Homo sapiens: one gene and its partner. The protein of the gene in region 2 purifies or fractionates together with the protein of the main gene of each other region. This does not show direct contact. Each region holds a gene or a part of one and is shown on either strand. Other genes may lie near its edges.

Evidence for each region.
Region 1: the proteins of PUM3 (region 2) and LIN28B purify together in Homo sapiens (affinity purification with mass spectrometry; one large-scale study listed by BioGRID and IntAct). This does not show direct contact.

What each region holds. Positions count from the first base shown.
Region 1 is NC_000006.12:104,955,503-104,959,255, forward strand, and holds the start of LIN28B (protein lin-28 homolog B), read left to right. Parts: upstream 1-1,604; 5' UTR 1,605-1,748; coding exon 1,749-1,758; intron 1,759-2,596; coding exon 2,597-2,784; intron 2,785-3,753. UniProt on the Homo sapiens protein: Suppressor of microRNA (miRNA) biogenesis, including that of let-7 and possibly of miR107, miR-143 and miR-200c.
Region 2 is NC_000009.12:2,823,519-2,827,171, reverse strand, and holds part of PUM3 (pumilio homolog 3), read left to right. Parts: intron 1-20; coding exon 21-99; intron 100-2,356; coding exon 2,357-2,455; intron 2,456-3,337; coding exon 3,338-3,391; intron 3,392-3,653. UniProt on the Homo sapiens protein: Inhibits the poly(ADP-ribosyl)ation activity of PARP1 and the degradation of PARP1 by CASP3 following genotoxic stress. Binds to double-stranded RNA or DNA without sequence specificity. Involved in development of the eye and of primordial germ cells.

The sequences.
Region 1 (3,753 bases), on a different chromosome or scaffold from region 2:
CATTTTCCAATCTGAGCCAATTAAATTTATATTTAGTTGTTTAATATGGGGAGGGAGTATAAATAGGTGTATACAGCTTTTTCCATAGCTCTTCGATTCATAATCCCTACATTTTAGCTTGTGTGAAACAGTGCTGGAGTGTGGATGTGTTTGAAGAGACTGGGAGGGGGATTGCTGGCATGGTGGGGGAGGGTCAACTCGGTAGCTTTGTCGAAGGAAGTGGTATCTGAACAGTTAGTTTCTTGGTAAACTGCTTGTTTAAGAAAATGGGGGGTGGGGTAGGCAAGTCTGGTGGTGCATTTTAAGGTTTTAAAATAGCGATATTTTATATTTTAAAGGAAATAAAGTCTTTTTAGTTAATCTATAATATTTATTATAGTATTCGATAAGGGCAGAAATACTGTTGCCAGCATCTTGTAATCAATCGTTTGAACCAGTTTGAAAGGTAAAGGGGGTAGGCATTTTGAAACTGGGGGTCAGTTGAGGAAGGACAGTAGGAGCTTCATCCGTTGTTACATTTTCGTTTATTCAACTCTTCTAGCCATTGGTAGTGGACTTTTAAAATGTCAGGGTACAAGTCAATATGATATGAATTTACCTTTTTTCTCCCACTTGTCCTTCTTTCTCCACCCCACCCCCTGCCCGCGCCGGCTTTTTTTCTCTCCCACCTCTTTCTTTGACTCTGCTGCCGCCTATCCTGGCGGCTCCTCTTCACCTCCCCTGCCTGGCGATCCCCTCCCCCTCCTGCCCTATGTCCTCCAGCTCTTGGGGAACAATCGCCACTGATTGAGGTTCACTCTATGTTAGGCTGGAAAACTGGGCTGTTATTTAGGAAGTCATTAATCACATCTCCTCCCCCGGAAAGAGATGGCAGAGAAACCTGTGAAGTACAATTCCTTACCAACCCCCTCTAAAATTTTCCAAAATGGTTTACCTAAACACAATTTGACTATATGAAGGTGAAAACGATTTTTCTAGTAGGATTTTATTTTAAATTTGAAAAAATTTCGGGCATAATCAGGTAATTTATGTGCCTCTGCCTTTTCCTAGGTGTATGTTTTCATTATCTAAAGTTTCATGGGGATGTAATTAGGTTTAATTAGATCTTTTATAAATTATATATTTTCCTCTAAGAATTGAATTAAATATGAAATTAGCGTTCCAAGCAGGTTTACTGCCATGGAATAGCTGAATTCTTAAGGGGAAAAAAAGCGTTAACATCGGTTGTTTTATTTAAACGACCCCCTCCCATGATTTTAGTCAGGCTTGTGTGTAAGGCACGCGTGTGCACATATATGACTGCCTTTTTTTCTAAATCTATGATTCACAAGGTCCCTCCATTGTGTTTAAGTAGAAGCACGAAATCAGCATTCTGATTTATCCTAAAGAAGCGTTCCAAATTGTCTTTAAGATAACATGTTTGAGTTTTTCGTGTTCATTCATAAATTATTTTGATGTCAGCATAGATGAAATGGCGATTGGTTATCTCTTCCTCTTGCCAGCCCCTTAAGGATACGAGGTGAAATTAGTAGCAAGAAAGCATGTAATTGACAAAGTCACGTGTGCTCAGGGGGCCAGAAACTGGAGAGAGGAGAGAAAAAAATCAAAAGAAGGAAAGCACATTAGACCATGCGAGCTAAATTTGTGATCGCACAAAATCAAGATGTTAGATTGATGCAGAAGATCACTCCGTTCCAAAGGGAAAGTTTTCATCTCACGAGTTTGGAGCTGAGGGCCCGTGGGGCAACATGGCCGAAGGTTAATTTTCTTTTCTATTGTTTTACTGTGAATTTCTTTCTTCTTTTCTCCTCCCCCTCCCCCTCTCCCACCCTTCTTAGACCGTCCCCCCCTTCCCCTTTTACCCCAATACTGGGCATTACCTCCCAACCCCCCATCACGCAGTGGGGCTTTCTGCAAACCTATTGTTATAGATCTCCAAAAATGTTTTGTACCGCCCACACTGATTCACAACTTGAAAAGCTTTCAGGGGGCTATTGTTTGAATTGTGTGAGTGTGATTAAGCGCAGTTTCAGTTAGTGATTCCAAGAAAACTTTTATACACCTGCCCCCTCCCCCATTCCACCCCAACTTTAATTGAAAGTTATGGGGGGGAGGGGAATGCACATTGCAAATAACGCTGGATTCAGTGCTGCCCCATGTGCCTTAACTAGTAGCTCTAAACCATCTTCACGATTTCTCTTTCCTCCTCGTGCCCGCCGGAGAGAATAGTTTCGCTGAAAATTTCTCTTTGTCAATGGGATCAGTATTAAATCAGCAATATACAAGTAAAGTATCGCATGCTGTAATGTAAAATGTGGCTGAAAAATGGAGTTAAATGAATAAGTACACGTATGTATAGAAACGTGGAAGTTGGTGTGATCGATAGAACAGTGTGGCTTCCCCCTCCCCCGCTTTCCTTTTAACCCTTTTCATTTTAAGTATTTTCTGTGGAGAAAAGAAATCAAACCATTAAAAAAAATTTTTTTTTTCTGTTACCCTTCCCCCCCAACCCCAGGCAGGCAATTTTTTTTTTTTAATCTTTGAATGCACATTGAATGGGAATACAGACTGACTTTTTTGTCCTGTTCCTTCTCAGGCGGGGCTAGCAAAGGTGGTGGAGAAGAGCCCGGGAAGCTGCCGGAGCCGGCAGAGGAGGAATCCCAGGTTTTGCGCGGAACTGGCCACTGTAAGTGGTTCAATGTGCGCATGGGATTTGGATTCATCTCCATGATAAACCGAGAGGGAAGCCCCTTGGATATTCCAGTCGATGTATTTGTACACCAAGTAAGCCAAACTTTTTTGTCCCCCTCTTCATCTTTTTCCATGTGGAGGAGCTGATCGGTAGTTATGCCAATAGACGTACGATAAGATGTCCTTCGGTATATTGAAAGACAAAATCTTCCCTGAAATCACTAGGTAGTCCAACGTTTAGGGTACGTGTATGGGCCTTTTCCTGGGTTTTCTGTCTAAAGAGAAAAGAAAATATTTGAAATTTCACTATATATATTAAGGTTGACGTTATTAGCATTTCCCCCTGCTTCATTCTACAGCGAAATAGTGTTCTTGTTGTTTCCGGTATTACCTATACAATATACTTTGTCGCCTGTATCTGGTGAATGGGTAGAAAAATGAAGAAACATGATCATTTTAAGGTTGAAAAAACAAAGCGAAACAGTTTGCTGTGGAAAGAAATGTATAGATTGCCTTATTTTAGACACCTCTAGTCACAGTAGCTCCCTTTATTATTTCATCGCTGCCTGTCCTGTAATCATTTTGTAGATTCAGATCAAAATAATTTGACTTCATAGTAAAATAAAATAGAACACTGTTGGCCTAATGTGGTTGTAAAGAAATGCGTGCAATAGAGGGATGCTTGATAAACATTTTAGAAATGTGCTCCGTGTAGTCATTGGTCTACGTATACTGTCTCTTTAAGAGACTGAACTCAAAAAAACATGTGGCCAGAGGCGGCTCTTGCTTGTGTGTTTAAAATGTGCTGGTCTGCTACTTGGGGTAAATTTCCACCTTTGCTCGTATTGTGTTGTAATTTTTAAAGATGTTTTAATACCAAACAGAATTTCATTGCTTCCCATTTTCAAAATTTTACCCAGGAAATAATGAATTAATACTTCTGCCTTTACTCCTCTCTACTGCTTAATCCCTTTATAGTAAAAAAGATACTTTTATGGAAGCCGGTTGTTTCCTCAAAAAAAGGTAAATATAAATTTTCTGTAGTTAGAAATAAAGAGGTTT
Region 2 (3,653 bases):
CTTTTTTTTTCTGTTTTCAGGGAAGCTGTGATTAAGCACTCATTGGTGCATAAAGTATTCTTGGACTTTTTTACCTATGCACCCCCCAAACTCAGATCAGTAAGTTCTTGGTTTTTGTTTTTAAACTAAAACATGGAGGAGGAGCGGTGTAGAAATTTGAAAAACTGCTTTGATGTACGTTGTCTTGTGGAAATTTTAGAGTTGCTTCCTTATTTAGGGAAGATAATTTACTCAACTCCCTTTGAACACGTTTGCTAATTCCATTTAGGTTTTATTCCAGTAAACAATAGAATTGACCCTAGTTTTACTAATCATATTAAATTTTTATATCTTAATTATAATCCAGAGAGTATCCGCTGGCTAACCTAATCTGAAAATTAACTAACTCGTGGAGGAATATTCAAGCATTCGGATAGTTTTAAATTCAACTGTGCTAATACAAAAAAAAAATTAGCTTGGCATTAAAAGGTTAGAGGAGGATATGTTTGTAAAACTAAGTGGACGATGAAAACCTGGACTTTATATCATAGAAGAACAGAGTGAAGGTAAATTGCACTGCCCTTCAAGTCAGTCATGGGAATACAAATGAGAATTCATCATTTAGTTCCCTGAACTTTGCTTGCCTCATCATACAGTGAGCTCATTGTCCATTTGTCCTCATTTTCCAATCACAAGGGATAATGAAAATAATGAGACTGACTTAACAAATAACGCCAGACTATACATTCATTGGAGTTTTGACCCTCTTAAAATTGGCATGCAAAATAATTTCCTGATGGTAGCCACCCACGTAAGCTTATGGTTTGATGACCATAGCAGCACCTTCTGTTTTGGAGATTTTTCTTACTTCCTGAAAAATACAGTATCCCACGGTTCTGAGGCAGGACTATATGCTCAGAAATGACACAATGATTATTTGAATATATTCAGTGGTAGAAAGTATCTTTTTAGTGTTGAATGTTTCAGTAACAGCAAAAAATCATTTGGAACTTAGCATGCGTGTAAAGTAATGAGACAAATTGTCTTTTCTGGTATTGGGGGCATTTTCAAAAGAGACTTAAAAAAAAAAAAACCTTCGGGGAAAATGGAAGCATAATTGGAATATATGCATGGCTTTCCATCTGGATAGCTCTGAAGAGATTCCTAAGTTCAGATATGTTAGTTGAAACTGCTCTTGAGAGTCATCTTGGGAAGGGATTGTTAGATACTTGAGGCTGAAATTGTTTGTTCCTTATTGATGAAATTAGGCACCTACCCTCTCTTTCGTGGCATGAGGCTTTGTATTTATTTAATGTACATTTTTAAATTGGGAATAGACTAAAATGGAGCTCTGCACTTGTTAGTTGCCAGAACTCATTTACATCCTACATGCCTTAGACTTTGAAAATATAGGGCCAGGCACGGTGGCTCACACCTGTAATCCCAGCACTTTGGGAACCCGAGGCGGGCAGATCACAAGGTCAGTAGTTCGAGACCAGCCTGGCCAATATGGTGAAACCCAGTCTCTACTAAAATACAAAAATTAGCCGGGGGTGGTGGCGGGCACCTGTAGCCCCAGCTACTCGGGAGGCTGAGGCAGGAGAATTGCTTGAACCTGGGAGGTGGAGGTTGCAGTAAGCCAAGATGGCACCACTGCACTCCAGCCTGGGTGACAGAGCAAGACTCCGTCTCCAAAAAAAAAAGAAAATGTAAATAAGAAATTATATACATGGAAAATGAAGGCTAAAGGTTAAATTAAGCTAAGCTACCTAGTGAGAAATTAAATGTTTTTTACTAAAGGGTCATTTTATAGGTGAGGTCTTAGTCTAAATGTTAGTATAGAAATTTTTCATGAGGAAATGTTATGTAAGCGTGTTTATGGTAAAGAATGTGATTTTTGGAGATAATCCAGTTATGAACTGAAAAGGGAAGCTTTTCAGTCAAAATGAGTGTTTTGATTCTGTTTATTGCATACAGGTCTCTTTTGGGGAAGAGCATTTTCTTTGTCTCGCTATTCTGTTAAAAGCTCCCTTCTTATCACCACCACCTCCTAGGCTTCTTTTTCTTGGAAAATTATTTAGAATATATTATATTACACATATAGCTTGACCTTTTTTTTAACAGACATTGGTAAAAGTCAGGTATTGTTTTTAATAGATATTGTCTGCCAGCAGTATTTACTGCTCTTGATGGAAAAGAACATTTCTAGAAAGAGCTCGTGTTTCTGTTTGATTGTCTACAAAATGAAATTGTTTGCTACCTGGCACTCTCTTCCTTTCCTTCTCTCTGCATAACTGCCCCCTGTAGACAGACAGATAAAACAGTAGAAAGAAGAAAATAAAGCAGAGCCCTGTTCCTGACAGCATTTGTTCCCTAGGAAATGATTGAAGCCATCCGCGAAGCGGTGGTCTACCTGGCACACACACACGATGGCGCCAGAGTGGCCATGCACTGCCTGTGGCATGGCACGCCCAAGGTAAGTGTGACAGCACTTGGGCATTTAAACTGTACAAGTCAGGGCCATGCTTTATCTGCAGGCTTGACTTAGCTGTCCTTAGACTTTTAACCCCCTTTGGTCTTTGCCCTGTTGTGCATTATCTTCCAAAAGTTGTGCCTTAGAGCCTGATGGGAATGAGCCATCTTCTTTAGGCCTAGTGTTTCTTCTTTCCTCTGCTTTAGTAGAAACCTTGAAGTTTCATTAAAGGATGGGAAGAGATCTATCAAGCAAGTAAACATAATATGTATTTAAGCTTTAGTTTATAGAGGTTTTGGTACCTCCTCTTTTAATGATCATACTGTGGCAGGGGAAAATGGGAAGAGATAACAAACAGCTGGCCACACACATTTGCTCCCATAGGTGTTATGTACTTGAGGGAAAAGGTAAAGATCCTTATTAATCACAGAAGTTTAACAGAAATTATCATTATTTCCTTGGTCAGCATAATTCTGCCTTTAAAAGATAGTTGTACTATATCTACTTTTTTTAATGCAAATTTAATTTTATTCAACAAATGCAGATGAGTACTAACTGTTTGCTAGACTCTGCATTTGAGGACAGTTTAGACCTTGGAAGAAGGATCTGTCTGGTCTCACTGTGAAAGGTGGCTTGCAAACCCTAACCCTAACCCTAACCCTAACCCTAACCCTATCACATACACATCTAAGCTTGTAATAGCTCTAAGCCAACTTCTTTGGTATATTACAGTTTTTTTGTTCTGGCTGTATAACTATTATTTTTACTAATGAAAACATATGCCACTCAAATGAAAACTTAATAAATATTATATTAAAATGTTTAACTACAAAATACCCTTAATACATAACTGAAAATTCAGTGAGACAATCTTTCCTTTTTAAGGACAGGAAAGTGATTGTGAAAACAATGAAGACTTATGTTGAAAAGGTGGCTAATGTAAGTATAATAAAACTACATATTCTAATTATTTTTGATAGTAAGATGAATTCATGTCTATTATAGAAAATTTGGAAAAATTCAGAAAATTACCAAGCAGAAAATTATTGTTTTATTATATTTTTCTTTGCATCTACATGTATTTTCATATTTTATCTACACAAAATGGAAATCATGTCACATGCATTCTTTTCTCCTTTTTTAATTTAACATTGTATTGTGATAGTTCTCTACTTTTATTAGATATTCTTTGAAAACCTGA